4 linked regions of the Homo sapiens genome follow. The protein of the gene in region 1 interacts with the protein of each later gene in a pairwise test. Each region holds a gene or a part of one and is shown on either strand. Other genes may lie near its edges.

What was found.
Region 2: the proteins of GAB2 (region 1) and RPSA interact in binary tests that used the Homo sapiens proteins (3 or more experiments, as listed by UniProt).
Region 3: the proteins of GAB2 (region 1) and ACP2 interact in binary tests that used the Homo sapiens proteins (3 or more experiments, as listed by UniProt).
Region 4: the proteins of GAB2 (region 1) and RFFL interact in binary tests that used the Homo sapiens proteins (3 or more experiments, as listed by UniProt).

The regions. Positions count from the first base shown.
Region 1 is NC_000011.10:78,225,433-78,233,196, forward strand, and holds part of GAB2 (GRB2-associated-binding protein 2), read right to left. Parts: exon of another isoform or gene 6,933-7,764; intron 1,620-6,932; coding exon 1,033-1,619; intron 750-1,032; exon of another isoform or gene 1-749. UniProt on the Homo sapiens protein: Adapter protein which acts downstream of several membrane receptors including cytokine, antigen, hormone, cell matrix and growth factor receptors to regulate multiple signaling pathways.
Region 2 is NC_000003.12:39,402,335-39,410,102, reverse strand, and holds the start of RPSA (small ribosomal subunit protein uS2), read right to left. Parts: upstream 3,384-7,768; 5' UTR 3,339-3,383; intron 2,483-3,338; 5' UTR 2,450-2,482; coding exon 2,317-2,449; intron 1,713-2,316; exon of another isoform or gene 1,564-1,712; intron 1,498-1,563; coding exon 1,379-1,497; coding exon of another isoform or gene 1,364-1,378; intron 1-1,363.
Region 3 is NC_000011.10:47,245,806-47,253,838, forward strand, and holds the start of ACP2 (lysosomal acid phosphatase isoform 1 precursor), read right to left. Parts: upstream 2,999-8,033; 5' UTR 2,985-2,998; coding exon 2,871-2,984; exon of another isoform or gene 2,834-2,870; intron 2,824-2,833; exon of another isoform or gene 2,710-2,823; coding exon of another isoform or gene 2,680-2,709; intron 2,551-2,679; exon of another isoform or gene 2,495-2,550; intron 2,329-2,494; coding exon 2,233-2,328; intron 1,923-2,232; coding exon 1,836-1,922; intron 30-1,835; coding exon 1-29. Other genes in the region: NR1H3 (oxysterols receptor LXR-alpha), read left to right, coding at 2,999-3,059.
Region 4 is NC_000017.11:35,018,157-35,025,920, reverse strand, and holds part of RFFL (E3 ubiquitin-protein ligase rififylin), read left to right. Parts: intron 1-4,139; coding exon 4,140-4,550; intron 4,551-7,764.

The sequences.
Region 1 (7,764 bases):
ACTCTACCCTCATCTATGCACCTCTCCTTTGACTCCTACACCACTCACCTGTCCTGCTCACCCCAGCCATCACTTCTCTGAACACCACAGTAACAATACTTGTCCTGATTTATATGTGTTGGTTTTATTTTCCCAATGAGATGTAAGCTCTGAAGGGCAGGAACATGTTTTATGTATGTCTTTATCATCTCAGTTCCAAAACGGAGTATGACTGCTCAAATTGTCGATGGATTGAAAGACGGCAAAGAGGTCTAAACTAGGAGCTGGGACTCTAGGGTCTGAGTCTCATCTCTGGCACAATGACTCTGCAACTCTATTTAAGTCTCTTAACTGTCATTGGCCTCATGTGAGATGGAGACAAGGAGGTTTTGTCCCACCAACCTCTCTGCCTGGCTTAAACAACAGGATGGACAAGAAAAGGCTTTGCAAACCATAAAGCAAGATGCAAAATGAAAGGAATTAATATTGTTCTATTTTTTCATCATACAGAGGAGGTTACATGCAGAGTTGGAATACTCTCAGTGGAAAACAAGTAACAATAGAATTTAGGTACTTCAAATAAAAGTTTTGACTTCAACCAAAGAGATTCAAGTATGATTTAGAAAATATTAAGACCTCGTTTTGCTTTAGCAGTCTGTTAGTCCACACAGGTTTCACTCCAGTTTGGACTGATCTTCTGAATTTATTTTTTAAATCTTTGATTTGATTTACAAATGAATAAAATACAATGATTTGGGCTTCTAAACCCATAATATGTTATACTGTGGTTAATCAAGAATGTCCTATTCTCCATTAGTAGAACATTAACTTCTCTGGGGCTAGCTCTGTTAGACAACTACTACTAACAGCCTCCAGTGCTGGAGGACCAACTGGTAAGGGATCTGGGTAGAAGACACCTATGTTTTTGAGTATCAGTGACCTAGGTGGTTCGTAAGTTCCCCTCGGCCATGGATGACCAAGGACCATCAAACTATTGAGAACCCCTGTGTTACCTCCTCCTCCCTCTGAGTCTCAGCTAGGACTTATACTGACCTCGGTGAAGTCGGCTGTTGTCCATTGCAGGGAGGGTGTTGCGTCTGGGGATGGTGGCAGCGACAGATCTGCTATTTTCACTGATTGGCGGTCTCTGCTGAGGACTGCCCCATCGAGGTGTTTCTGCCTGACTTGGCTTGGGGGGGCGGGGTGGGGGAGCTATGGCTGAGTCCCCAGGAGTGGCCACTGTCATGGCATTGTGGTTTTTGTCCAGAGTGAATGTCCTAGGGATCTGGTAGGCTGAGAGTGGGGTGGCCGGAACATCCATATTGTCTACCAGGAGGTCCCCGAACTCCCTGCACAGGGTGTTGCTGGGCGTCTTGAAGGTGTACACATCCTCATTATCTGTCTCGGAGCCTGTGAGGCTGCCCTTGGTGTGGCCATGGGAGGCCAGGCTGCGGGGGAGGTCGTAGGTACTGTCTCTGAATTCTGTATTGTGCCGGCTCGGCTTGGGAAGGCTATAGAAGCCATGGACTTGACCACTGATCCCGTTGACACAGTGTCCATTGCCCTGGGCAAGTTTTTGTACAGCTGTGTCACTCCTCATGAGAAAAGAGGCTCTGGTGCCCTGAGAGAAGCTGGCACTCCTAAAAGAGAAAGAAGGGAAAGGGCAGGAGGGTGAGACAATTACTAGCTGTGTGACCTTGAGGCAAAGCACTTTCTCTTTCTATACTTTGGTTTAGGCATCTGTAAAATGGTGACTAAAAGCATATTTTGAAGGTTGTTCAGACTCTAGTATATGAATGTTTAAACAATGTTAGACTTCATCCGTCCCCCATCTCCAAATGGCAGTTAATAGCAGGGGTTATAACCCCCACTCCCTGAACAAGTATCAATAAGCCAGATGGATTGCCTATTTGTTCACTGTTTTAAGTACCGCAGAATATGCACATTCGAACACAAATGTTGTGAGACAGTGGAAAGAACCTTTAAGTTGATGACAGGAAACAGCAAACAAGTCATTTTACCTCTCTGAGTCTATTCTGCCACTGTGAAACTAGCCCATGGGTATTGATGTTGTAAGTTGAAAAGAATTATTTGGGTCAGGTGCAGTGTGCAGTGGCTCATGACTGTAATCCCTGCACTTTGGGAGGCTGAGGTGGGAGGTTCACTTGAGGCCAGGAGTTCAAGACCAGCCTGGGAACACAATAAGACTCCATTGCCACCAAAAAAAAAAAAAAAAGAACTAGCTGGGCAGGGTGCTGCACACCTGTAGTCCTAGCTTCTGGTGAGGCTAAGGGAGGAGGATCGCTTGAACCCAGAAGTTCGAAGTTAGAGTGAGCTATGATCGCACCACTGCATTCCAGTCTAGTAAACAGAATGAGACCCTGTTTCAAAAAAACACACGCCCCAACACAAACAAACAACAAACTATTCAAACGTAAGCTCTAGATTTATTTTCTACCATGATTTATGGTTGGTTAAGAGGCATTTTGAGGGGAAAGATCTCTTTCCAGAGACCTAGAAATCTATATGAAGAATGGTTTCCTGTTTGGGAACTATATATAGAAAAAGTTTTGATTAGTACATTTTTAAATTTAGGTTTTGGGCAATAAGGCAAGCAGTAAAAAGAGAAGAGAAACAAGAGGGGAGACTTGTGTTAGGTTCCAGTACTGCTACTGATACGTGCTGTGTGTATCACCAAGCCTCCTCTCTCAGGTGGGACCTAGTACGTCACAATGATTTCTAAGGGCCCATCTGGCCCCGATGCTCTACAAGCCCTTCGTTTCACAAGAGTGGTTTTCAAACTAGATTCCAGGTTCTCTGTAAGTGCTTTGGGAAATTGGAGGGTGAGGTTCTGAGCAAGCAGGGATTTAGGTCTGCTTCTTTAGCTTGTGTATGATTCTTCATAGGATTTCACTTGGGGAAAAAAAGAATCAATCCTTTGTAGCAGGGATTCTAAGCCTTTTGGAGGCTATAGGAGTTTTTAAGATTCTGGTCAAAAGCTCTTGGAGTGTCTCATCAGAAAAGGCAAATCTCGTATACATATAAACTTGTTGGGGCTGTAATACATAATAGCCCTCTGAGGCCAATCCCTGGACCTTTTGCCTTATAGAAGCTCTCTCAGCTCCTGAGGAGTTTGTTATTTACAGATGTGGCCACCAGATGGTGTTAGAAAATAGGGGCCAGAGCTTAGAAAGAGGAAACAGGTGTGTAAAGCCAGGCTTCCTCTCATGTAAACTGTACCCACCATGATGGCTAGGAATTCCAGGTCAGTCTCCAAACCTTCACTGATGCTCCTCCTTGGGCCTCTGCACTCCTCCTCCCTTTCTGTTCCATTCCAGACACATAACCAAGCCAACAGCCATGGGCTTGGATGATTGAACATCTAGGCTTTAGATAATGTAGTGCTTAGGGAAGAGGACGGGGGTGGCGGGGGGAGCGAATGGTAGACATAAGGTGTTAATGTTGTATGCATTTTTTTGGTGCCTTTCATTTTGCTTTTTTTGGAATTTCCAACTCTCTGTTGGATGCTCCCATCTGGATTTGTTCATTTTACATTTACTGATGTCCTAATTTCCATCTGGGCCAGGCAAAAGGGATACAGAGATGCCACCTGCCCAGTGAGGGGTGGTCTGGGAATGTCACAGTAGGGCAGGAGATGACATGGATGCAAATCATTACAGTCAAGTAGGGGTGAGTATGTAGCTGCTGACAGTTGGTATCAGCCCTTGCTGGGGGTGGTGGTAGACAATGTCAGGGAAGCCTCCTTCAGAGATGTTTTATCTTGAGTGAGTCTGGAAGGATGAGCCACAACTGGCCAGGCAGAAGGCAGGAGAAGGGAAATGGTGTTCTAGTTGAAGGCTCAAAGATGTAGAACACAACCTGGCAAGTTCTAGAAACTCGAAGCTGCTCAGGCTGCAGCAAGCACATTAGAAGGCAGGGCTGAGAGAAGACACTGGAGGCCAGGCCAGGACTAAAGGGAACGGGGAGCCTCTGAAGGATTTCAAGGTGGGGATGGGGTTGCAAGAGCATCACAGGCACCCTGCAATAACCTTCAACATACTCAAGAATGAACTCATCATCTTCCTCTGGAACTCTTCTCCTCCTGCCTCTCTTATTTTGGGAATGGCAACAGTTACTCAAGCCAGAAACCTGGGAGTCACCCACATTATGATTTCTGCCCAGGGCCTCTCTGATCCTTCCATCCTACTAATATTTACTTTCCTAACTTCCCAGTGTAAACATTTTCAACACCGCCTCAATGCTTCAGGATTAAGCCCAAACTCCTAGGTTTATCCCAACTCATCTCACCAATCTTTTCTCTTTAGTTCCCTTTTCCACTCTAGGATCCAAACCAAACTTTGCAGTGTTCCCTGTGTGCCCCAGTTAGTCAAGCATTGGGCTTTGCTGCATTGTTGGGCTGTGTCTGGAAGGCTTCTTACCTCAATCTGGCAAGTTCCTACTCCATTTATCCTTCAAACTCATCTCAGAAGACACATTTTTTAAGGCCATTCTTACATCCTCTACCTCTAAGCATTGCTTAACTTAATCACTTGCTTAACTTTGTTCTTGGAGCAGGTAGCAAGTGTTACCTATATTAGGCACCATTACTACTTATCTCTGCCAACAGACTGTGATTTCCTTGAGGAAAGAAACTGTGTCTTACTCATTTTTCTCTCCTTAGCACCTAGGTTAATGCTTGTTGCATTATAAATAATGAATAAACGTTTGTTGTAAGTAAGCAAATGAATAAACAAACGTATGTTGCTGCTATCCCTTTTCCTGGGCTTGGCCCAAACCTTCTGATCAGCAGATCAAAGCCCTTCCTCTGTAGAACCCACTAGCTTACGTTCCAACTTCCCTCTACCCCGGCATCCTCCTGTCTCGCTCACAGAACTACTCACTCATCCCTAAACATGTCCTGTGTAGTCTAAACTTCAGCCCTGGTCTTGCATTACTCACCTCCCTGTGGAACGCTTCCTTGATACATCAACACCTTACACAAAGTCCACAAGAAGCCTTTTCACTCTACAAAGGTATTACAGGTCCCTAATTCTCCTTTTTATGGTAATCATTCCTTCCTCTGTGCTACCACAGCACTCTGTGCTTCCATCGCAACACTCACCTTATTCTGCCTTATGTCAGTTATTCAGGTCTGTGTCTTTCCACTTCTACCAGACCATGTGCTCCTAGAAGGCAGAGGGCCATATCCTGTACCCTGGCATAGTGCCAGGCATATGATAGATAATAGTGACACATGTTGAGGGAGACTGATTATCACCTCAGTAACCAAGTAAGAGGAGTTGAACAAGGGACTCTTGCCCAAAGTTACATACTCAGAGGGCAGGGAATTTGTTCTAGCAGCCAGGTCTCTGGGTGCCCCCACTGCGCAAACCATGCTAAAATGTGGTCCCTTTGGGCAATAATCTAGATGGGGAATTCCAAATACTCAGCAGTCTTATGGCCTTTAGTATTTTCATGTAAACCTTAACTGAGGCCTGTGTCACTGTGATGACCTGAGTTGCTTTTGTGGGATGGATAATCCACCTGGAAGTGGTGGATTTGGAGAGAGGCTTCTCTTCCAGGGCTGGGCTTACAGAAGCCTTATAAAATAGGCAAGATACTATGCCATACATATCACATGTGATCTCATTTTAAATCCTCCTAATAGTTCTGAGACACACCTCTTACTTTCACATTATCAGATGAGGAAAACAGTAAATGGCAGAGTTGGAGCAGGAAGATACTCAAACACAAGCACGTATGGGAGCTCCCCAGAATCAAAAAGAAGTTTGAGAGAAGATATTCCCTCAAGCCAGCAGTGCCAAGTGCCTTCCCTTTCCATTCCTGGCCAATGGCTCTTCCAGAGGCTATAGAGGCTATTGCCACCATACAGTCTCTCCCTTGGTGCGCGCGCGCGCGTGTGTGGTGTGTGTGTGTGTGTGTGTGTGTGTGTGTGTGTCGGAGTCTCATTCTGTCTCCCAGGCTGGAGTGCAGTGATGCAATCTTGGCTCACTGCAACCTCCGCCTCCTGGGTTCAAAGCGATTCTCCTGCCTCAGCACCCTGAGTAGCTGTGATTACAGGAGCGTACCACTGCACCTGGCTAATTTTTGTATATTTAGTAGAGACGGGGTTTCATCATATCGGCCATGCTGGTCTCGAACTCCTGACCTCGTGGTCTGCCCGCCTCAGCCTCCCAAAGTGCTGGGATTACAGGCGTGAGCCACTGTGCCCGGCCTTCCCTTGGCTTTTAAAAATGGTTTTCTAGTTTTTCTAGCCACTTCATTTTGTACTTGTTCTTCCACACATTTTCATATAATTTTATATACCATACTATATGATGATTTTGCTTTTTTCTATCCCACTGGACTCCAAGAACCCTAATGATGAAGGACTCACTTTGATTTTCAATGAGTATGTTCCCATTTAAGGGTGACTTAATATAAAATGCTTGTAAGTAGATTAAACACCATTTAGAGTTCTGTAACTGTCACTGGCCATGTTTAAGAGGTCATTTGAACTATCCTCTTGCATTTGACCCATTCCAAATGGATCCTTCCTGTGAAAGAAGAAAACTCTGTGTCACAAATCTTTATGAGATGAGGCAATCTTTGTATCTCAAACCCTTCTGGCTGCAGTTCTGAGCCAATTTTGGCAGGACTCTGGTTACAGAGCAAAGCTGTATATGTGAAACTAAAAGTTGTATATTTTGCCTTTGGTCAGTCAATCAAAGCCTCTGGTGAATGAGTCAGGGAAGACTTAGAAAAGATTAATGATGGGTAAGCTCTCCACTGACATTTCTAATTTTACCATTTACCCACCATCTTTCTATAGACTACTGCTGCAGGGTCAGTGATTCTGGAATCTCACCAATGAAATTTCACTCCTAGTAACCCTCACCAGAATTATGGCTTTTCAGGGCATGTGACTCACATCAATGTATCATCTGTTACAGGTTTAACAGCCTTCTTGAAATAAGAAGACAGACACTGGCTAGAATCTGGAATGAGGCCCCAAAGGCTGGAGGACAAAAATAAGTCCAGTGAAACCAACTTGTCTTCAAAGAGAAAAAGAACTCTATTTGTCTTGACTCTGCCAGTTCAAAACTCTTTCCGTTGGCAATAGATATTATTCTGAATAGTTACTTATTTTAGCTCAGTGGAAGACCTGCATTTTGAGAAATGAAGTTATTTTAGCAAGAATACATATTATCTAGTACTTGAAGGAAGACTAGTGGCTATTATTGCAGTAAAAGTGATGATAAATACATAATTCACAGTTTTATTTCTAAGGTGCTTAATTTACTGTATCTTTACAATCAGGTTCCCACATAAATGAAAAAAGAGATAGATAGAAGGCTGGTATTAGTAGCCTCAGTAATCCAATCAGACACAGTTATGTCTAGTCTATGCGAGGCAGGATGAATGGGCTGATTCACTTTATACCCCCTACTCAAAAATAATCTTACAGGATTACTTTGGAGATCATATGAGGTACCTAATGTAAAAGTGCTTTGTAAACTTTAAAGCATCATTTCTTTCTTCCAGAGCACCTAGTATATAATGTGAATGTTAGAGGAAACACAGGATTAAAGTCTATTCATATACTTACCAATACCTGGCACTGTTAAGTTTTTTTTTTTTTTTTGGTGACAAGGTCTGGCTCTATTGCCCAGGCTGGAATGCAGTGACGTGATCTCAGCTCACTGCAACCTCCGCCTCCTGGGCTCAAGCCATCCTCCCACCTCAGTCTTCTGAGTAGCTGGGGCTACAGGCATGTGCCACCAT
Region 2 (7,768 bases), on another chromosome or scaffold:
CACTCAGGCTGGGATGCAGTGGACAGTCTTGGCTCCCTGCTGCCTCAACCTCCTGTGTTCTAGCAATCTTCCCACCTTAGCCTCAGCTGAGACTACAGGCACGCCAACACCACACCCAGCTCGTTTTTGTTAATTTTGGTAGAGACGGAGTTTTGCCACGTTGCCCACCCTGGTCTCGAACTTCTGGGCTCAAGCAAGCCACCAGCCTCAGCCTCACAAAGTACCCCATATTACAAAAGCATGAGCCACCCATGACTGGCTTTTTTAAGAAACAGGATCTCACTCTGTGCCCCAGGCTTGGAGTGCAGTGGCAAAATCATAACTTACTGCAGCCCCCAGCTCCTGGACTTGAGGGATCTCCTGGCTCAGACTCCCAATTAACGGGAACTATGGGTGCATGCCGTCATGACTGGCTAAGATTCTTAAAAAATTTCTGTCCCAGTATTTCATTGTTTTAAGGTAAAAACTTTGACTATGGGAAAATGTGATAAGCCACTTTAATAGAATTTCTAGATATTTAGTGGCACAAGTCTACACAAAATGAAATTATAAAGTTCAACATACTGCCAGATGCCCAGCATGTATGTTGAAAAGGTCTTACAGGCTGGGCGCAGTGGCTTACGCCTGTAATCCCAACACTTTGGGAGGCCGAGGTGGGAGGATCACTTGAGATCAGGCGTTTAAGACCAGCCTGGCCAAATGGTAAAACCATGTCTCTACTAAAAATACAAAAATCAGTCAGGCATGGTGGCACATGCCTGTAATTCCAGCTACTCGGGAGGATGAGGCAGGAGAATCCCTTGAGCTTAGGAGGCAAAGGCTGCAATGAGCCGATATCACACCACTGCAGTCCAGGATGGACAACAGGCAACAGAGCGAGAGACTGTCTTGAAGGAAAAAAAAAAAAAAAAAAAAAAAGGAAGGTCATAGGTCATAAGGGCGATTTCTATGGCTCAGTCCAACTTAAGATCTCTTAACAGTGGAGTTTGAGTTTTCTATTTTCTTTTTTTTTTTTTTTGAGACAGAGTCTCGGCTCTGTCACCCAGGCTGGAGTACAGTGGCGCATCTCAGCTCACTGCAAGCTCCGCCCACCGGGTTCACGCCATTCTCCACTTTGGCCTCCTGAGTAGCTGGGACTACAGGCACCCGCCCCCACGCCCAACTAATTTTTTGTATTTTTAGTAGAGATGGGGCTTCACCGTGGTGTGGATCTCCTGACCTCGTAATACGCCGGACTCCACCTCCCAAAGTGCTGGGATTACAGGCGTAGCCACCGCGCCCGGCCTGAGTTATTTCTGTTTTCTTATGTCTTTCTATGTCTCACAATGTCTGTAAGCTTTATTTCTATAATATAAAAACTAACCACTGTTCCACAAACCTGGCCAGTATTCCTGGAGGATATAACACTGACATCAGCAGGGTTTTCAATGGCAACAATTGCACGAGCTGCCAGCAGAAGCTTCTCCCAGGTCCTCTTGAGATTTATGATATAGATGCCTAAGTGAGGGCAGAAGGATTTGTAACACTTGACCTGGCTGTGCAAACATTCTTCTCAAGTTTACTCTATGTGGCAGCGAGTACTACCAAACTCCAGTCATAGAGGCAAGCTCTACTGGTGTTAGCGAAAATCCTGCCATTGATATAGCACACTTCCGACACTCAGAAGTTCATGAGCCAAGACTGGCCTCCACCCTGAGCTTTAATAGTGTGCAGCCTAGATTCAGTTGGCTAAATCCATCTTTCCTTTCTCTTTCCCTGTACTTATTCCATCATTGGTTCTTAATAATCCACTTCCTGGCTTTCTGCCACTCTTTCCCTTTTATAATCTGCACTGATGCAAGATTCATCCTAAAACTCCTTTACAGCATGTCACTCCCAAGTCCTTGGTAGCTTTATCTCTAAAATAAGTAAGTGCCTTAGCCAACTTAATGCCTTCCATCCTCTGGTTCTTCCAAACCATATTGTTCATTCCCACCTCTTACCCCACTTTCCACTCAAAATTCAGTTCAATAGCCTGTGTAAGTACCTATGAAGTTGAAGGCACTATGCGAGCTATTAGAAACTCAGCCAATGAACTTTCTCATGTTCATGACCCAACCCAAGTCCCGTAACTCAGACAACTGACATATTCCTCCCCTGGAGCAGAAATCTTTTCTCTCAATAACAAGAACATTTATTTAAAGTATGTTTTCAACGTAGGGGTCTGGCTTCATTTAAGGAAGATAGAAAGAAATTACCCAGAACTAACCACGAGAATAGCAAGCTCAAAATTTGTACTTACAGCTGGAGTAACAAAAAATTAAAGCAATGACTAACCATCACTTTTCCTTTTATAGATGTACTGTTCCATCTGGAAGTCAAGATTGGTGCCACCTAAGTGGGTTCCTGCTGCAAGGAACTTAAGGACATCCTCCTCCTTCATTTGCAGGACATCAAGGGCTCCGGACATTGTGAAAATTTCCCTTTAAGTTACGACGGGAATCTGAAATAAGAGAGCAACCTATTTCTTTTCATTCCATTGAGTTAAGTAGGGCACACCCTTAAAAGCAACCAAAAACTCCATCTGCTATAGTGTCAGGCATTGAGCTTACAGTGTAGTGAAGGGTAAACAGAAAGTTAACCCATACATGTCGTGTATTACGGAACAGCGCACATCTTACTGAGGAAATAGTGTGGACGGCAGAGTAACCGAGTAATAAAACTACACGAAATTAGCGAATGGAAATTCAACACTTCTCAAGATAGGAATTAAGGAAAAGTTGTGGATGCGCCAAGTTAACAACTAGATACAAAAGAGCAGCCATGTTTGGAATATGCAAACTAAAGGCAAAAAAGGCATGAATTGTTTTCAGACATTTTCAAGCAGATTGTAGGCGGATGCTTTGGAATTACTTCGCTGTGCTGTCACCACTTGTTTGTCTAAAAACCCGAGAACCTTAACTCCTGACCCGCACGGCGCGAAGGGAAAACCCGACCAGCCCAAGTAGCTGGTGTAAATCAGCGCCTGGGCCTAGACTCACCGCCGTGTGGGACTCCGAAGGGATAGCAACACAGGATGTTAGCCCGCTTTCTGCACTCCCGCCCACCCGCGGCCTGGTCCGAACCCCAGCTCGGAGCCTCCGCTGGAGGGCGGCCTCCACCCGCTCCCGGGGCACTCTGGGAACCCGCCAGCCCGAGCCTGGCCACGTGCGGGCCGCAGGCCTAAGGTGGGGCGCGCCGGGCGGGAGACAGATCCAGTCTGACCGGCTTTCATCACTAGTCTTCTCACCCTTCATTTGAGCAGGAAAAGCTCATTTTTCTAGCCCTGGAAGGCGCCAGGGACGCTACACGGAACTCACCCAGAACAACGCCGTATGGACCCCTCTGCAGGTAGCACGGAAAAGACAGGCGGCAGGAAATGACGTCCTTATGTACTCCGTTGTCAGCCAATGGCAAAGAAAGTCGAGCGGAAGAAGGGCGGAGCCGGAGAAGAACGCTGCCGGGACTGGGCTTTTTCTTCAGGAAGGCGGGCTTGCGCCGCAGGAGCGGGCCTCTGGGCTGTAGCCGGTAGCGGCATCCTGGTCGGATCTGGGGCGCTTGTGACTTTGGGGTTTCTAGTGCCACAGCGACGCCCTGTGCATAATTCCTGTCCAGAGCGCGGAACTCAAGTTAGTCAGCCAGGCGGGGCGTTCTTACCCAGCCCTTGTACCTGCGAATATGAGCGGCTTTCTAGCCTAAGCTGCCATTTTGTTACCTGAAAAGTAGGAAGGTTTGTTCGACACAACAAATTGTTAGGTAAACAAAAACTTGAAGATTTATTTTATTTTATTTTCCTGGAGAACAGTTTAACAGGACGTAATTCAGATTTAAATGTTCACTTAAGGGAAGTTTTCTCTGAAAAAGTTAAAAAAGATAAGATTGAACTGATCGTATGCGTTATGTCTATCTCATGTATCTATCCATCTATCACCTGGGGGAAGTTTCCCTGAAAAAGTTAAAAAGGACAAGATTGAACAGATGGTATGGATTATATCTATCTTTTTTTTTTTTTTTTTTTTGGTAGAAGAAAAATTTTGCAATATCCATCAGTAGGAGATAAGTTTGCCGGGCGCGGTGGCTTGTGCCTGTAATCCCAGCACTTTGGGAGGCCGAGGTGGGTGGATTGCCTGAGCTCAGAAGTTCAAGACTAGCCTGGGAAACATGGGGAGACCCCCATCTCCACAAAAAATACAAAAATTAACCAATCATGATGGTGCGTCCCTGTAGTCTCAGCTACTCAGGAGGCTGAGGCAGGAGGATAGCTTGAGCCTAGAGGTCAAGTCTGCAGTGAATGTGATTGCACCGCTGCACTCCAGCCTGGGCAATAGAGCGAAATTCTGTCTCCAAAAAACAAACAAAAAAATAGGAGTTAATTGAAGGGGCGCGGTGGCTGTAATCCCAGCACTTTCGGAGGCTGACGCGGGCGGATCCCTTGAGGCCAGGAGTTCAAGAGACCAGCCTGGCCAACATGGCGAAACCCGGTATCTACTAAAAATTCAAAAATTAGCCAGGCATGCCTGTAATCCCAGCTACTGGGGAGGCTGAGGCGGGAGAATTGCTTGAACCCAGGAGGCAGAGGTTGTAGTGAGTGGAGATTGCGCCACTTGCACTCCAGCCTGGGCGACAGAGTAAGACTCCGTCAAAAAAAAAAAAAGTGCAGGTTCCTCTCTGGGGCCTGCTGAGTCAATCTGATTTCTGAGCCCACCCTAAAATGAACTCGTAGACCCTTATGGCCACTCTTCCAAAGGACAGCACATCCAGGTTCTCCTGCAAGTGGCTCTGCAGCTCCACTGAAGCCAGTATGATTTTCTGAGGAGCTTGGAAACCCTTGGACCCTAGCACAGGTCACCCCCAGGCTGCTCTGCTTCATCACCCACCAAGGCTGAAGCACCTGGGGCTTGAGGGACAAATTCAGAGAAGTCACAGCCCCTTGCGGCAAATGCAAATGCCTCCCGCTTCTACGCTTTGTTATGGGAAGAGGAGGCATTCAGTTTGTTGGCAGAAACTCAGGCCACAAGCCTCCTCAGAGGCCCCTGAGTCCCAAAACAATGCCCTGCCCCCTGCACCCAAATGTACTCCTGCTTAACCCTTCACGTGTGGATTGGGATTGCTGAGTAGTGAGTGCAGCTCTGCAGGGTTCCTCCAGGGGCCTCAGCCTTGGCATTAGGATCACCTGGGCAGCTTTTAAAATCTTACACCTGGGCTGAATATATCAGAATCTCTGAGTGAGACCCAAGCATCAGTAGCTTTTAAAGCTCTTGTAGGGGCTTCCCCTCCACCCTCTGAGTGTTCACTGCTAAAATGAACTGACAATAGACAAATTAACAGGAGAAGAAACATACACTTTTTTTTTTTGAGACGGAGTTTTGCTCTTGTTGCCCAGGCTGGAGTGCAGTGGCTCAATCTCGGCTCAACGAAACCTCCACCTCTCGGGTTCAAGCAATTCTCCTGCCTCAGCCTCTCGAGTAGCTGGGATTATAGGCATGCGCCACCACACCCGGCTAATTTTGTATTTTTAGTAGAAATGGGGTTGCTCCATGTTGGTCAGGCTGGACTTGAACTCCTGACCTCAGGTTATCTGCCCACCTCGGCCTCCCAAAGTGCTGGGATTACAGGCGTGAGCCACCACACCAGGCCAAACATACACATTTATTAATGTGCTTATGCACAGGAGCCACACGAAATATAAGACTCAAAGAAGGGCCAGATGGCTGAAGCTTAAATAGCATCTACTTCACAGGGAAGGGAGATGGGATGGTAAACAATTTAGAGGGCTAGTAAGTGATTTTTGGAAGGATAGGAATGAGTTCAAAGAACAGAAAATTTGCCTGAGACAAAGTTCCTGTGAGCTCTGGGGGAAACAGCAGCAAAGGGTAAGGGGAGGAACTTCACTGTGACCAAAGGTTGCCTTATTAGGCAAATAATGTCTCCTGGAAAATCTCTCAAAAGCTGCCCTCAGAAAAATAGATGAAGAGTCTGTCTGGGCATGGTGATGACTTTTAGTCTTTTCTCTTCCCAGTGGTTAATATTTCCTGGTTACCTGATGAGATTCTTAGGGAGGAAGTTTTAAGACTATTGTATTTTATTCTGGAGGAACCTACCTTATTCAGATAAGGGAACTTCAGACAAAGCCCCTCCGGATGCTTTGGGAAAAGGGGATTGAGAGATGGGGTTAGGGGAAGGTCAGAAAGAAACCTTGGTTCTGACGCTATTTCAGAAGCCTTTCAATTTTCTTTAATTCAAAGCATGCAGCATGCCAAAGTGCCTTATTCAGTCAGGGGTATCATTTTCTGAGCCCCAACATTTTCCAGATGATTCCAATGTGCAGCCATATTGAGTTTAAAAACCACGATCCTAGACTCTAGAGTATTTCTTCTTTATTTTATGTAATTTTTTTTTTTTTGAGACAGTCTCATTCTGTCACCCAGGCTGGAGTGCAGTAGTGTGATCTCAGCTCACTGCAACCTCTGCTCCCAGGCTCAAGCAATTCTCCAGCTTCAGCCTCCCGAGTAGCTGGGACTACAGGCCCGCACCACCACATCTGGCCAGTTTTTGTATTTTTGGTAGAGACAGGGTTTTGCTTTGTCGGCCAGGCTGGTCTTGAACTCCTTACCTCAAGTGATCAGCCCGCCTCGGCCTCCCGAAGTGCTAGGATTACAGGCATGAGCCACTGCACCCGGCCTAGGGTATTTCCTGACTACCTAAGCTAATGGCTCCCAGGAGCAGAGAAGAACTTAGAAGCTAGTTCTACCTAGAGGCTGTTGCATTGAGGCACCTTTTTTTGGAGGGAGTGGTGACAAAAGCTGAAATTTAAGACACAGTGGATTGTTAAATTTTTTTTTCTTCTTCTTCTTTTTTTTGTTTTTTTTTTTGAGACAGAGTTGCTGTCTCCCAGGCTGGAGTGCAGTGGTGCAATTGCAACTCACTGCAACCTCTGCCTCCCAGATTCAAGCAATTCTTGTGCCTCAGCTACCCGAATAGCTGGGACTACAGGTGCACACCACTACATCTGGCTGATTTTTTGTAATTTTAGTAGAGACAGGGCTTTGCCATGTTGGCCAGGATGGTCTTGAACTCCTGACCTCAAGTGATCTCACTGGCCTTGGCCTCCCAAAGTGCTGGGATTATAGGTGTGACCCACTGTGCCCTGCTGCTTGTTAAATGTATTTATTTATTTTTTGAGACAGAGTCTCCCTCTGGTGTGCAATGGCATGATCTCAGCTCACTGCAACCTCTGCCTCCCAGGTTCAAACGATTCTCCTGCCTTGGCCTCCCAAGTAACTGGGATTACAGGCGCGTGCCACCATGCCCAGCTAATTTTTGTATTTTTAGTAGAGATAGGTTTTCACCATGTTGGTCAGGCTAGTCTCGAACTCCTGACCTTGTGATCTGCCCGCCTCAGCCTCCCGAAGGGCTGGGATTATAGGCATAAGCCACCGTGCCCAGCCTGGTTGTTACATTTAATATCAACAATAAGTTAGAAGGCCAGGCGTGATGACACACACCTGTAATCCCAGCACTTTGGGAGGCTGAGGTGGGCAGATCCCTTGAGCCCAGGAGTTCGAGACTAGCCTGGGCAACATGGCGAAACCCTGTCTCTACTAAAAATACAAAAATATTAGCTGGGTGTGGTAATGCATGCCTGTAGTCCCAGCTACTTGGGAGGCTGAGGTGGGAGGATTGCTTGAGCCTGGGAGGTCGAGGCTGCAGTGAGCTGAGAGCAGTGAGCTGAGATTGCCAGTGTACTCCA
Region 3 (8,033 bases), about 31 Mb from region 1:
CGGTCAAAGTCTGTGCTTCGCACATAAACCTGCAGCGATAGCAACACAAGTCGTGTGTGTGTGTGTGTGTGTGTGTGTGTTGGGGAAGTTTTGGTCACCCTGAAGTGGAGCCTTGTATGTATGTGTGTGTGTGTGGTGGGAAGTTTTGGTCACCCCAAAGTGGAGCCCCAGAGGAGAACCTGTTCCTGATGGTCACCCAGCAAACTAAACCTACCATACATCTGGCCCTCACCCTCCTCTGGCCTCTGGCCTTCCCCATCCCCCAAACACTCCACTGGGGGTTGTCACCACTCTGTGAAGAACTCTTGTGGGAATGGCCTTAGTTGAAATGCCCCTTCCAGTCAAAAGTGCTGAGTCAATCAGTAAGGCTCTCTGGTCTGTCTGGTTTCATAACAACACCTCTCTCCCTGTCTAGATCAGGGTCCTTGGGGCAGAAACTGGCTCCAGTGACGACCCTTAGAGACCAGGGAGAAAAAAATAAGATAAAGGGCTGGGCCTGGTGGCTCACACCTATAATCCTAGCACTTTGGGAGGCCAATGCAGGAGGATCGCTTGAGGCCAGGAGCTCGAGACCAGCCTGGGCAACATAGTGAGACCCTGTCTCTACAAAAAAAAATTTTTTAATTACCCAAGTGTGGCGGGCACTTGTAGTCCCAGCTACTTGGGATGCTGAGGCAGGAGGATCACTTGAGCCCAGGAGTTTGAGGCTGCAGTGAGCTATGACTGAGGCATGTGCTACAGTTTGGGTGACAGAGTGAGACCCCTTTAAAATATATGTATATATTTTGGGCCGGGCACGGTGGCTCATGCCTGTAATCCCAGCACTTTAGGAGGCCGAGGCAGGCGGATCAGCTGAGGTCAGGAGTTCAAGACCAGCCTGGCCAACATGATGAAATCCTGTCTCTACTAAAAATACAAAAATTAGCCAGGCATGGTGGCACACACCTGTAATCCCAGCTACTTGGGAGGCTGAGACAGGAGAATCGCTTGAACCTAGGAGGTGGAGGTTGCAGTGAGCCAAGACCATGTCACTGCACTCCAGCCTGAGCAACACAGCAAGACTCTGTCTCAAAAAAAAAAATTTTTTTTGAAGAGCTTATTCAGAGATAGTGGCTCATGAAAAGGGAGGAGGAAACTGGGGAAGGACAAGCTCAGGACAGAGCTGGGCCTTAAGAGAACAATAACAATGTCTATGGATTCTTGATACGGCTGAGGCTGACAGTGGTAATCAGAGGAACAGCTTCCCCCATTCCTGGGGTGGGGCGAAGACTCAAGGAGCAGGCACACTCACCAGTCCTCCCTGATGTGCCCTAGGAATATAGCACGACCTGGCGCAGCAGACAGGGCTCAAAAACCTCATCTTGATCAAGAAAAGACAAGCCCTCTCTACGCATGTCTTCCCCGCTGTCTTTCATCTTGGCCCTGTCTGGTTTATCATTAGATACCCCCACAACATTCTAAGCTCCATGAAGACAGAGATCATATCTGTATGGTGCACAACTGAATGCAAAGTGCTAGCACAGTCCTTGGCCTTTAATAGGTACTCAATGTCTTGGATGGAAAGCCTGTGATTTCACAGTCAGAAACCACTTTGCCAGGCCCGCCCTTAAGTCCGAATTTGGATGCTTAATCAAATTTGCCTCATCCCAGCCAAGCAGGGGCAACTCAGCTCCTAGGGCTTTGTTCCAGACAGCTCTCAGATGTCTTTTCCTGTAGTTGTGACCAAAAATACAAGAAGGAGGCCAAAGTGCCCAGCCTCAGCCTTAGGCTCCCTGAGGGCAAAAGATGAGGGCAGCATACCTTGTTCCCCTTGCCTCTGGAGCTCCCAACCTTACCTCTTGCCGGTGATAAGAGGTGTTTAGGAAGCCGTGATAGCGCTGCCGCAGGGCCTGGCCCAGTTCCCAGTGCTGTAGCATCCCCTCCTGTGGGCAAACCCAAGGGTTAAGAGGGTCTAGAGGGAAGGGGTGGCTTCAAGCCCCATGGGGTTTAGGCCCTGTTGCTTTCCAGGTTCACGCTTTGCTGGAGTCAATTAATCTGATCCCAGAAGTCTTTCATTAAGTGGCCAGTCATGCACAGCAATATCATGGGCACAGAGATTAAGGTTATGAAATCTGGTCAAAGTCAGCACCCATATGGGAAAAGGCAGTTTAGTAGGACCCCAAGTTTTGTAGACTGCTCTAGACGTCGCTCATTCTGCAGCTCATCCTGAGGAAAGGCTGGCTTCTGACCCACCTTGGTTAACTGACCAAACCCCTGGGGCCATTCTTCTTCCTGATAGGGGTCCTTGGGATATGTCTTCACTGGTGAACGGTCTCCATGGCGGTACAGCTGAGAGAATAAAATGGTTTGCCTATAGGTCAGAAGCATCCCCTTGATAGGGACCCAGAGCCTACCTTTTGCCCCATGTTAGGGAAGGAAGTCTCATTCCCTCTGGGAAGCCTACTGGCTGCAAAAGACCCCAGCTAGGAGTCAGTCACTTCTTCCAGATTCCAGAGATTCTAACTTAGCTAAGCAATGCTACTGGAGACCATAGGCAAAGCCAAGGTACAGGTAGGAAGGGAAAAGAGAAGTGAAAGCAACGTATGTGGTGGGGACAACTGGGGAAAAAAGATAACCAAAGGCTTCTTTAGGGATGAGTCTTAACCATTCAACCACTTCCCTGTCTCAAGGCAGACTCACCCCGACGTATTCGGTCATCCTGACTCCCATAAGCCAGGGCTCCAGGTCAATCCTGAATCCAGCCTCCCAACTACCCAGGCCAGTCGTCCCCTCCTAAACCAGCTGTTCCTTCCCGAGATCCTCGACCTCCACCAGCTGGCCTTTGCCCTTTTAGCTTCAGGGAAGTCTTTGGTGAGCCCATCTCTCATTACCAAGGTAACGAAGCGCAGACTCCGGGCCCGGGTGGGCGGCATCACCACCAGGTTCACGCCGAGAAGGAGCTGGAGGAGAGCCGCCCGGCTCCAGCCGGACCGCTTGCCCGCCATCACCGTTGTAATCTATGCAGCAAACAAGCTGGAACCCGCTGGGTGGCACCTGCAAGCAGCCGCCCGGACGCACCCGTAAGGACACACGCCGGAAGTGCGTTCGCCGCCATCTTACTTAGGGACCTGCTGGGGTGCGGGGAAAAGGCGCAGTCTCGGTGGGATTGCGTGCAGGAGGGTCGTGGTCTGGCTGTGGCGGAGGAGCATAAGAAGGTAACGCGACCTGGCGCGGCAGACAGGGCTCGAAGACCTCATCTTGATTAAGAAGGCCACAAATTCGCGTTTGCCTCTGCTCGGAGAAATCCCTTACCAAGGTGGCACTTGCAGTGGGCGGGACCATGTCTGGAGAACCAGCGTCCCCTCCAGGCTTGACCCCATAGCTAGATCGGGTGCAGAATTGAGGCGAGGGATGGGAAAGTAGAGGTCGCTTCTCTCCACGCCCCTGCCTTTGTGGGGAGATTGAGCCCTGGCCCTGTTCTCCAGGAGATGTTTTGCTTGGGGTGCAGGACACAGTATGTAAACAACCCTTTGGACTCCGTGTGTCCTTGAGGTTGCCCCAGTCTGGCCTACCGTTCCTGCCCTGCACAAAGCTTCAGTAGCCCTCTCACTTTCCCTTCCAGTCCTTTCCCTGTCCTCCCTCCCCTCCACTTCCAAGTTTTAGTTAATTAGAGTCAAGACGTCATGTCATGCCTCTTCCCAAAGGAGTTGGGTTGCACAGGATGTTCAGACTTTACAAACCCAAAGCACTGAATCCCTGGGGGAGGAATTTCAGACCAGTGGGGAGGTATTTTGAGGTAAGGGACAGGCGCATATCATAAAGTGGGAGTAGGTGGGGTTTCCACAGAATCAATGGCCCTCTTGGCATTGACCATTAGGATTCAGGTGCAGCCAGTTTGGCCTCAGGACTTTGTGACTCCTGTGACGGTTGCAGGTCAGATCATAGGTCCTGGGGATGCTTTGATTCAGATCTGCCTACTGGAAGCAAATCTCCTCAGATCTTTGGGAAACAAAACTGATCAGGCTTGGCCTGGGCGCCGTGGCTCACCTGTAATACCAGCACTTTGAGAGGCCGAAGCAGGCAGATCACCTGAGGTCAGGAGTTCGAGACCAGCCTGGCCAACGTGGCGAAACCCCGTCTCTACTAAAAATACAAAAAAAAAAAAATTAGCCGGGTGCAGTGGCGTGCTCCTGTAATCCCAGCTACTCTGGAGGCTGAGGCAGGAGAATCGCTTGAACTCGGAAAGCGGAGGTTGCAGTGAGCTGAGATCACGCCACTGCACTCCAGCCTGCGCGACAGAGTGAGACTGTCTCAAAACAACAACAACAAAAACCTGATTAGGCTTGGTGTGGTGGCTCACGTTTCTAATCCCAGCACTTTGGGAGGCCAGGGTGGGAAGATTGCTTGAGCCCAGGAGTTGGAGACCAGCCTGAGCAGCTTAGGAAGATCTCCTCTCTACAAAAAAAAGTTTAAAAATTAGCTGGGTGTGGTGGCACACACCTGTGGTCCTAGCTCCTCGGGAGGCTGAGGTGGGAGGATCACCTTCAGCCCAGGAGGTTGAGGCTGCAGTGAGCCATGATGGTGCAACTGCACTCCAGTCTAGATGACAGAGCAAGACTGTGTCTCAAAAAGAAGAAAAGAAAAAAAAAGATCAGGATTATCTGTCTTTATTTTGTCCTAGGACTCCAGATTCAATTATTTATATATACTTCAGGATTTAAACTTTGCTTCCAGAGTTGTCATGGAGGAGGCCAAGAAGCAAATAGAGTAAGAGCCAAAGCCTGGGTAGCCAAACAGTTCTTAACCTTCTTATTTAATCACAAGCCCCTTTATGAATCACATGAAAATTTTGCACCTCTCCTCCAGAAAAATGTTCACACATATAAACACACACATGGAATTTTGCATATAATCCCAAATGGTTCACAAAGACCATTTATTACAGGTTTCATAAATCAGCATCTCTGAATACCTGATTTAACCTAGTCCTCTTACTTTACAGCTTAGGAAACAAACCTAAAGAGAGGAAGTGACTTGCCCAAATTCACAGTTTGGGCATGGGCACAGTTTGAGAATGGATTAAAAGTCAAGTTTTGGCCGGGTGCGTGCTCACGCCTGTAATCCCGGCACTTTGGGAGGCCGAGGCGGGTGGATCACGAGGTCAGGAGATCAAGACCATCCTGGCTAACATGGTGAAACCCCATCTCTACTAAAAATACAAAAAGTTAGCCGGGTGTGGTGGCAGGTGCCGGTAGTCCCAGCTACTCAGGAGGCTGAGGCAGGAGAATGTCGTGAACCCAGCAGGCGGAGCTTGCAGTGAGCGGAGATCGTGCCACTGCACCCCAGCCTGGGCGACAGAGCAAGACTCCGTCTCAAAAAAAAAAAGTCAGGTTTTGTGATTTTCAGTTAAATAGTCTATAATGGGCTGCTTCTTGCAGGCTACTCAAACTGCATTACTAAACTGTAATTGGTGATCCCGAAATCCTTTCAATAAAGAGGTATCTGTCAAAGGAAACCTTTTCAAATTAGTTGGACTAAACGGGACCTAGGCCGGACATGGCTCACACCTGTAATCCCAGCACTTTGGGAGGACGAGGCGGGTGGATCACCTGAGGTCAGCAGTTCAAGACCAGCCTGGCCACCATGGTGAAACCCCATCTCTACTAAAAATACAAAAATTAGCCAGTCGTGGTGGCGTGTGCCTGTAATCCCAGCTACCGGGGAGGCTGAGACAGGAGAATCACTTGAACCCAGGATACAGAGGCTGCCGTGAGCCGAGATTGTGCCACTTCACTCCAGCCTGGGCAACAGAGCGAGACTCTGTCTCAAAAAAAAAAATAAAATAAAGAGGGCTTGGGTAATTGGCAAAATGCTGCATATTAGTGGTAGTGGGAGGCAGTTGAGTGTTTTGTTTTAATGGGCCTCTTACTCCTTGCAAACTAGCCAGACCATTGTACTTTCAGAGTGTAAATCTTTGGCTCACCAAATTTCAGCTATCTCTCAAATTCAGCTTTTGCTTTTCTTCCCACTTGCTCAAATATGTCTATATTCTTTGTGCATGCAAGTATCCCACGTAGGAGGGATTGATGAAGCAGATACTATTTCAGTTTTTATAGGGAGAAACTATTCCAGGAAGGGTGGGGATTACAGCGCAAGTAGATAGTAGAGCCTGAAGCTGAGCCCTAGTTTCTTCACCCCTTTGCCTTCAGCTTTTGCATTTTCTGCCAGATGATTCTGTGGTTCTTACACTTTGGTTCGTAACTACAGGTGCAAAAAAAAAAAAGAAAAAAAAAAAACACATGTAGATAGATGGATATGTGGGCCTATCCCAGATCAAATAAATCAGAATCTCTGAAGGTGAGGACAGGAACCACTACCATATTCTGTGTTGGCAGAAGCAAACCTAAATCCAGGTATGTTAGCCATTTTTTTTCCATCTGAAGAGGCAGTTTTTGTTTTGTTTTGTTGTTGTTGTTGTTGTTGTTGTTGTTTTTGAGATGGAGTTTTGCTCTTGTTGCCCAGGCTGGAGTGCAATGGCGTTATCTCGGCTCACAGCAACCTCCGCCTCCCGGGTTCAAGCGATTCTCCTGCCTCAGCCTCCCGAGTAGCTGGGATTACAGGCATGTGCCACCACGCCTGGCTAATTTTGTATTTTTAGTAGAGACAGCTTCTCCATGTTGGTCAGGCTGGTCTCGAACTCCCGACCTCAGGTGATCTGCCCATTTTGGCCTCCCAAAGTGCTGGGATTACAGGTGTGAGCCACCGCACCCACCCGGCTGTTTTTTTTGTTTGTTTTGTTTTGTTTTTGTGACAGAGTCTCCCACTGTCGCCCAGGCTGGAGTGCAGTGGCACAGTCTCGGCTCACTGCAAGCTTCACCTCCCAGGTTCACGCCATTCTCCTGCCTCAGCCTCTCGAGTAGCTGGGACTACAGGCACCTGCCACCACACCTGGCTAATTTTTTTGGCTTTTTTTTTTTGTATTTTTAGTAGAGACAGGGTTTCGCCGTGTTAGCCTGACCTAGTGATCCACCCACTCGGCCTCCCAAAGTGCTGGGATTACAGGCATGAGCTACTGCGCCCGGCCCCAGCCGGCAGTTTTATATAATGGAGTGTATTTGTGATTTTTGTTTGTTTGAGCTTGAGCTCAAACTTTTGAATCAGCTAAACTTGTATTCTTTTTTTTTTTTTTTTTTTGAGACAGTCTCCCTCTGTCACCCAGGCTGGAGTGCAGTGGTGCAATCATGGCTCACTGCAGCCTCGACCTCCTGGGCTCCAACAGTCCTCCTACCTCAGCCCCCCAAGTGGCTGGGACTACAGGCAGATGCCACCACGCCTGGCTAATTTTTGTGCGTGTGTGTGTTTTCTGTAAAGGTGAGGTTTCGCCATGTTGCCTAGGCTAGTCTCAAACTCCTGGACTCAAGCGATCTGCCCTTCTTGGCCTCCCAAAGTGCTAGGATTACAAGTGTGAGCCACCACACCCAGTCTTATACCTGTATTCAAATTTGATATTTGCCCCTTGCTAGTAACTATCTCCTAGAGTTTACTGTGAGAATAAATGAAATAATGCATGTAAAGATAAATGTATGTAGTAGGGATGAAATAAATGTCACATCTTTCCTTTCTGCCTTCTGTATCATCTCTGAACTCAGGTCTGGGAATCCAGGTTTCTGGATTATTCTCTATGTTGTGATTGGAAGGTTGGGCAGAAGTCACTTGAGTAGATACGCAGTGGTCTGCAAGATGATCCCTGCACTTTCCACCCTTCCAGAACGGTGAAGGAGGGAACAAGAAGCAGTTCTCCTGGTCCATCCCTGCAGACCTTACCCTGTGGCCTGCTTCATGGGAATGAGTACTTTCAGGGCAGTTAGCCAGTACTACCTGTGACCATGGCTGGTGAATGCTCCTGTTTCTGCTTCAAGTTTCTCCTTGCTGTGAGAAGAAACCTGTGGAGGTTCTGGGGGGCCAGATATGTGACTTGGTAGATCCCCGAGTGTGTTCCCAGAGACATTGCCTCCTGCAGGAGCCAAGGAAACACAGAAGAGGCCCATAGGACT
Region 4 (7,764 bases), on another chromosome or scaffold:
TCAAAAGCAACGTTAAGGATGCCTCAGGTACATGAAGACCATAACAAAGACTGGAGCTTATTTACTGTAGCAGATTTCATTTGAAATGCTTGGGAGCCATGCTTCCCAAATGAATGAGCTGGAAAAAAAATTACTGGCTAGATAATGGTGTCTAGGTGTGCACCCTCCCTCTTCCAGAGGCAGTGAGTTATCTGTGATCAAGCATGACTAGGCAGAAGGTAAACCCTCACCTGGATAAAGAACTCCTGCATTCTGCATTTTTCTGCAGAATGAGAGGTTTGCAGCTCAGAATAAGTGATAGGATATGATGTTAAAATGGTGATCATGGGAAATTTGAGAGGAAATCATACTTTTAAACCATCTGCTATGTGCAAAGGACTGTTTAAGGAATTTAAATTTTTTTATTTCATTTAATCCTCACAATAGCTATGATATAGGTTTTAGAATCTCCCAAATCCCATTTTACATATGAGAAACTAGGGCTTAGGGTTTAAAATTTAAGAAGAACATTGAATGTGTTAAATTCCTGACAAATAGCATGAGAGATATTAAAATACTCATTCTTTTCCCTTGACTTCAGTAGTGCTCAAGATCACATAGTTATTAAATGACAGAGCCGGGATTCAAACCCAGGTCCTTGATTCCAAAGCCCCTCCCAGAAGACATTCAGCATGTCGAGTAGAAGATGACAGTTACAGGCCTGGGTGCCTAGAAAAGCATGGCAATGATTAAAATAAGGTGCTTTTTTTCTTACTTATTGGAAAATGAATTACTGAATATCTACTGTGTATCAGGAATTGCCTGGGCTAGGGAGGCAGAGATGAAGAAGGCCATTGCTGCTTAACGGGGAGCTTGCAGTTGGACAGGGAGGTGAGGACAGTGCACACCATACGATGTGACAAAAGAAAAGTGTGTGTAACAAGAGCTTCTGGAGGGGAAGAAAAATTCCAGTTTGGATGGTAAAAGATGGTTATTGGTACAATATTTTCTTGCTACAATATTTTCTTGCTACAAAAGTATGAGTTAATTTTGTGCAATTTACAGTGAATTTTGTGAATATTAAGGGTGTTTTCATCTATGAGAATTTTTCATTTGTAATTTCATGCTTAAGTGGATCAGCATTCTTATCTTAAGGGTTTGGCATTTAACACCCAGGGGCTTTCAAAATGTCTTTTTCTAGAAGTGCTTGAATTGAAATGATTCCATGGATCCTACTATCTTTTTCTTTTCCTTATTCTTCATTATGGTCAGTACTTTCTGAATGCTTATTGGGTGCAAAGCACAGATAACATTCAGGACTTTATAGACAGAATATAAGTAAGATGTGGCCCTTGCATTCCCTGAGTTTTCAGTCCTAAAGAGAAATGGCAGGCTGTACTTTTGCCACAAGCCAAATACCCCATCTCTATTGGTAATACCTCCCTGTGGTTTAGCAGCGACCCTGACGGTTTTGGAGGGAGTCTGGCACCCAGCCTCTTTAGTTGGACCAGTTGGAGGATGAGGTTATGCTTGGAGCCATGGAAGTGATATTCAGATCTCAGAGTGTTAAGAGAGGACTGGGTCTTAGGTGCTGGTAAGGGGAAAGAAAAAGGTAACCGTGTTACCTTTTCTGGAGCATCCACTTTGTGCTAAGGTTTTATATACATTCTCTCATGTAATACTTCCCATATTCCAGGGAATAGGGTGGGAGGGAGTAGGAGCAAGGGAAGGGCAGTTGGCAAACGGGAGCCAGCAGAACCCTGCACACGGCATCCTTGAAGGGTGGTGTCGGCCTGAGGCGCCACGGCCAGTTCTGTGATGCTGGATATCTCAGTACACCCTGGGCATTTCTGCAGGCATGTTGGTTGCCTCCACTAATTCATCTTTCATGCTACCTGGTTACTGAGTTGTTTTGAACCATTCGGCAGAATTTATACATAAGTGTGTCCTTTGCTCATTCTGCCTGCATTTGTTGACAGCCCTTTTTTCCTTTCTTCTTGTTTTCTTCTGCCACTGCAAACTGGGGTTTTAGCCTCAAGCCCTATCCTGTTCCTGTAGGGTGTGTTTCAGATGCCAGCTTATTTCAGAGTTCCCTGTGAGCCAGCGGGTGCATAGAAGCTAGGTTGTTGTCTGCATTCTGATCTTGCATCCAGCAAGCCACACACATTTGAAGAAAGAATAGAGAGTTGTTTGGATCTGGCTGATTGAGCAACGCAGGCTTTATAATTGTGTCAAGCTAGGTCTTGTCAGACTGCATCGACTTAAGTAATATTCCATGTCAGGCCCACAGGTTTATGGCATTGAAGCCTCTTTGTTTCAGTCTCAGTCATCCTAAACAGACTTCATTTCCCAATAGAAAAGCTTTAGATGTGAATGAACCCCAAATACCTGAAAACATCCATTTTCTGCCTGCATGGCTACTGGTCCCAGAACCGTTACAATGCTAGTGCAGCCATGCATCCTTTTAAGTCCATCTCTGAACAGTATTGTTTGGTTATAACTGTATGGAGAATTAGGGAGCTTGATATATGTCCCTTTGCAATGCCTTCTAAGTCTTAATAGCCAAAACTGGGTGGTAAATATTATTTCCTTTTCCCTTTACTATGTGAATGATACTTAGACAAAACTTATATAACTATCTTAACTATGCAGACATTTACTTCAGCCCAGAGTGTCTGTGATCTTGACTATGAGAATCTTGTCTCTTGAGCTTTCTTTTTTAGCTTGAATATCTTTCTATATTTCGAAAAGATGGACCAGAAATATTTAAGTTACTACTTAAGTCAACACAGGATGAAAAGTTTTTAACTTCTTTAAAGGATTAATGAGGGTGCCCTCCAGGCCAATCCCAGTGTGCTCAGGAATTACCTCTCTTGTTGGGGATGTGACATGCTCTTGGCCAGAACAGAGCTCAGCCGGATGTCACTGTGCTCACTCAGCCTGTGGGGTGAGAGGCCGAGGATTGCTTCCTGTGGGCTGAGTAAGCCTTCCTGTGTTGTCAGCGACTGCCAGACTAGCTGCTGCCAGGCAGTACCAGCTTGCCCATCAGGCGCTCTTGTTGCCTAACTGAGACACTCTGTGCTTTCAGGAACGAGAGTACCCTGATGTCCAGACAGCCTCCCGTTGCTGTCTAAATATTTGTCTTGGATATGCTTGTAAGCACCACTGGGTTCCCAGCACTCTGAGTGGGCCTTCCTGGAGTGGGGAGCCTGTGTCGATGGAGCAGTGGGTGGGGAATTTGGAGATGGAAGCCAGGCCCTTGACTCAGAACTGCTCTGTACTTGAATGGAACTGAGCTATGCAGTATGGCCTGGTGGAAAGAATGTGATCATGGGCATTAGCCTCCAACAGACCTTGAGTGTGAATACCCGCTCTCCTGTTTATTGCCTGACCTTGAATACAACAGTTGATCTCCCTAAGCCTCGGTTGCTTTGTCTGTGAATCAGGGAAGAACACTAATACCTACTTTGCAATGTCGCTTTGAGAATTAAATGACAAGCTAGCATATAGAAGCACCTCAATAAATTAATATTAATTGTAACAACCACCACCACCATAACCTTCATGCAGAAATAATTACAGTTTAGGATTTGAATCCTGGCTGTCACCGTTAGGTAATATTTCCTAGCTATAATAAAACAGCTTACACTTGTTGAGGACTCATTTTGTGTTAGATATGCTAAATGGGTTCTCTCTTAATCTTCACAACAACCCCATGAGGTAGATACTGTTATCACCCCCATTTTACAGATGTGGAAACTGAGCACCAGAGAGGCTAAATTACACACCCAAGGTGATACTGCAAGAAATAAGGGAGGGAGGCTTAATAAAAATGCAGAGCTTTTTGATTCTTATGCTGGTAGTCTTAATTAATACCTCAGGTGCTTCAGGAGTAAATAAAGTAAGCCTCAAATTAAATAATAAATGTGAAGTGTCCTGTACATGGATATACACAATACATAGTGGAGGTCTTCCACCCGAGTGGCTTTTAATCTAAAATCTGAAAGTGGCTTGCACCCTTAGATATATGAGAGAGCTTAGTAAAAGTAAGAGTGACTGGAGGAGATCCTGCTGGGCTTGGCAGCTCTGAAGCTCCCATCGCACTCTCTGTCTTGTTCTCTCAATCTGACATGGTTTCCTGTGTCTTTTGCTCTAAGCAGCAGACCTGCTTGGACTGTAAGAAAAATTTTTGCATGACCTGTTCGAGCCAAGTAGGGAATGGGCCCCGCCTCTGCCTTCTCTGCCAACGGTTTCGAGCTACAGCCTTTCAGCGAGAGGAGCTCATGAAGATGAAGGTGAAGGACTTGAGGGACTATCTCAGCCTCCATGACATCTCTACCGAAATGTGCCGGGAGAAAGAAGAGCTGGTGCTCTTGGTCCTTGGCCAGCAGCCTGTAATCTCCCAGGAGGACAGGACTCGTGCCTCCACCTTGTCCCCAGACTTTCCTGAGCAGCAGGCCTTCCTGACCCAGCCTCACTCCAGCATGGTTCCACCTACCTCACCCAACCTCCCCTCTTCATCTGCACAAGCCACCTCTGTTCCCCCAGCCCAGGTTCAGGAGAATCAGCAGGTAAGGGCCCATTTGTAGTCTCTGCCAGTCTGTGCCAGTTTGAGGGCTCATTTTCATTTTCCTCTCCTGCCTTTGTTGTGAGAATGGGGTATAAGGCTAAGTGTCTTGATTATGTGAAGCCTTTCTGACTACTGGTGCACCAAGTGTTTTCTGGGTATCAGACTCATGTTTTGGCTTTCTTCAGAGGTGATATGCACAGTACCAATTTTTTTGTTTGTTTTTTGTTTTTAATACACACATATCCTAGTTAGACATTTTTTAAAGTTCATCATTCCAGAAATATTTTGAGAAAAGTAACCATTAAGCCATCAAATTTAGTTCTGTTCCAATTTGTCTTTCAACTTAACTCCTTTGTTGCAGTCTTCATTGGCTGGATTGGAAACTTAGTTCCTTAGTAACCATCACAAGGAATATAGGAAAGCAAAGGGCTATATGGAGGCAAGGGAGGGTGGGGAAACAGACAAAGACACTGCTTCTCTTACCAGTCACTGGCTGGAAGCAGGAGTAGTTGGCACGCTGTACTTGCATGCTGCTTCTTCATTATCCTGGGGGGCTTGGAAGTGGTAAGCTAAGAGCAGCACATCAACTGAATCATGACCCAGGTCTGGGGAGTATAGAAATGAGTAATAAACTGTCTCTGTCCTCAAAAAGCCCCCAGAAGAGGGAAGGTAGACAGGTAGACCAACTAACTACTGGATTAGAGTGAGGCCAGTGGACATAATTGTTGTATAAGAAGTGATGATGTTGCATAAGTGCCTTAAGTGACTCTGTTATTTATAGCAGCGGCCCCTAACCTTTTTGGCACCAAGGACTCGTTTTGTGGAAGACAATTTTTCCACAGACTGGGGTGCGTTGGTTTTGGGATGAAACTATTCTACCCAGATCATCAGGCATTAGTTAGATTTTCATAAGGAGCATGCATCCTAGATCCCTCGCATGCGCAGTTCACAACAGAGTTCACATTCCTATGAGAATCTAATGCCACCGCTGATCTGACAGGAGGCAAAGCTCAGGCAGTAATGCTTACTTGCCAGCCACTCACCTCCTGCTGTGCATCCGGGTTCCCAACAAGCCATGGACCAGTACCAGTCTGTGGCCCAGGGGTTGGGGACCCTTGATCTATAGGGCTTGGGCAATATGGGGGAATTAGGAACTACAAGATCCAATTTCCACATCCACTTTTGTCACTGACTTCTTGATCCCCTTGGGCAAATGTTGAGCCTACAACAATGAAATGAGGTTAGTAATCACAGACCACTTTTGATCTTGCCAGGATGTTGAGAGACCTGAATGCGTGATACCATGTCTAAAAGAGCTCTGAGTTACTTAGAGCTGGTATAGTGCTAGTGCTGTTGGTTCCCACACATGATGTGGATGGCTGCTGCCACTTGTTTATGATCACCTCCTTTGCCAGGACTGGGCCCCCTGATTCAGCTCTTGACAACCACTGAGGCATAAAGGCCAATGTGATAGCATAATTTAACTGCAGTAAAATCATTTAACTCCCTTTTTGGCCTGAACATGTTTTTCTCCGCAGCTGGACTTTAATTCTTTCCTAAGCTCTGACTCTTGGTCTGCTAGACAGATTTAAACTCCTGCTATATATTCTTCCCTTTGCTTGTGTTTTTTTTTTTTCCACTCTATGTATAAGGAGCCAGGAGAAGAACTTGAGGAATTCTTTTTCTGTAAAGAACCTTGGCTGGGCGTGGTGGTTCATGCCTGGTAATCCCAGCACTTTGGGAGGCTGAGGCAGGCGGATCATTTGAGCCCAGGCATTTGAGACTAGCCTGGCAACATGGCAAAAACCTGTCTCTACAAAAAATACAAAAATTAGCTGGGCGTGGTGGTGGGTGCCTGTAGCTACTCAAGAGGCTGAGGTGGGAGGATCATTTAAGCCTGGGAGGTCGAGGCTGCAGTGAACCATGATCATGCCACCACACTCCAGCCTGGGCAACAGAGTGAGATCCTGTCTCAGAAAACAAAAACAAAAAACCAAGCAAACTTTTCAGGTAGATTTTTCAATGAAAGATGATAAGCTTCCTGTCATTAACCAGAAATTTCCAGATTGCACCTAAAGGTCACCCTACATACAAGATCTAAGTGGGTACTTTTCCTCTGAGATTTTCAAGAGACCTTAGTGTCTGCTTACATCCCCTGTTCTGGTGAGAGCTGCACTTTGCAAGCAGGAAAAACAGGCATGGAAGAATTAAGTAACTTACGCAGTACTGTCTGACAAGTTCATAAGTGAGCTGCACCTAGAATGTAAATTTCCTTATAATACTTGCTCAACCAGAGTTCTCTCTTTCACCTTTAGTGCCCTAGCAATCAATAGTTGCTAGGCAAGGAAGTATATACAATAAGCACAACTGTGGACAGGTACTAGTTTTGGATTTTTATTTAGCCAGTGGGCAAACTGGAAAGACAAGAGCATGCTTTGCAGCATGAGGTCGTTTCTCTTTCTAGGAAACAGGACATCTGAAAGATAGCTACTTAGGAACAGGTTAGGCTCTGAAGGATTCCAGGGTAATTCCAAGGTAACACTACCTGAGAGACCAGTGAGGATCTACAGTAAGCTAAGAGAAAACGTTGTTGATGAAGACATTGATTTGGATCCATCCCCATACATGTGTACTATGCATTTGATCTTGCCTTGATTTGGCATTTTGTTACTTCTGCTTTTCATTTCCATTGCAGTTGGTTGCCTCTTCTTGATTAGCTCCATATTATGAATCCTAATGTGGGGTGAGTGGCTGGGGTCGGTGGGTGTCTTTGGTTTCCCAGATTGTCCCTTCACTGGCATCCCCAGAATCTGGTGGAAAAGGCCTGTGAGCTCAGACACCTCTTTGCTCTGAGCTCACAGCAGGCCCTTTGCCTGCAGGGAGCAGTGGGCGAAGAGGATCTACTTAAGGGGTTTGTGGCTTAAATGGTGATGGAATTAGGAGGCTAACAGTTCTGCCTACTCTTTGGCCAAACCTCCTAAAAGAGTACTCAGGAGGAACCTTTTGAGAAGTGAGAATTCTAAGCATAATGAAATTCCGTAAGCATAGGCAGTGTTTTATATAGTGTTAGGCTAATAGATTCTTAGATACATTAAAATACTCTTTGACTAGGTCTGGACATAGCACTTAATAATAGTGTGCTCAACATGGGGAGCACATTTCCAGAATGTGAGAGTAGTTACTAGGCAGAAAAGAAAGAGACTAGGGTGGTGATG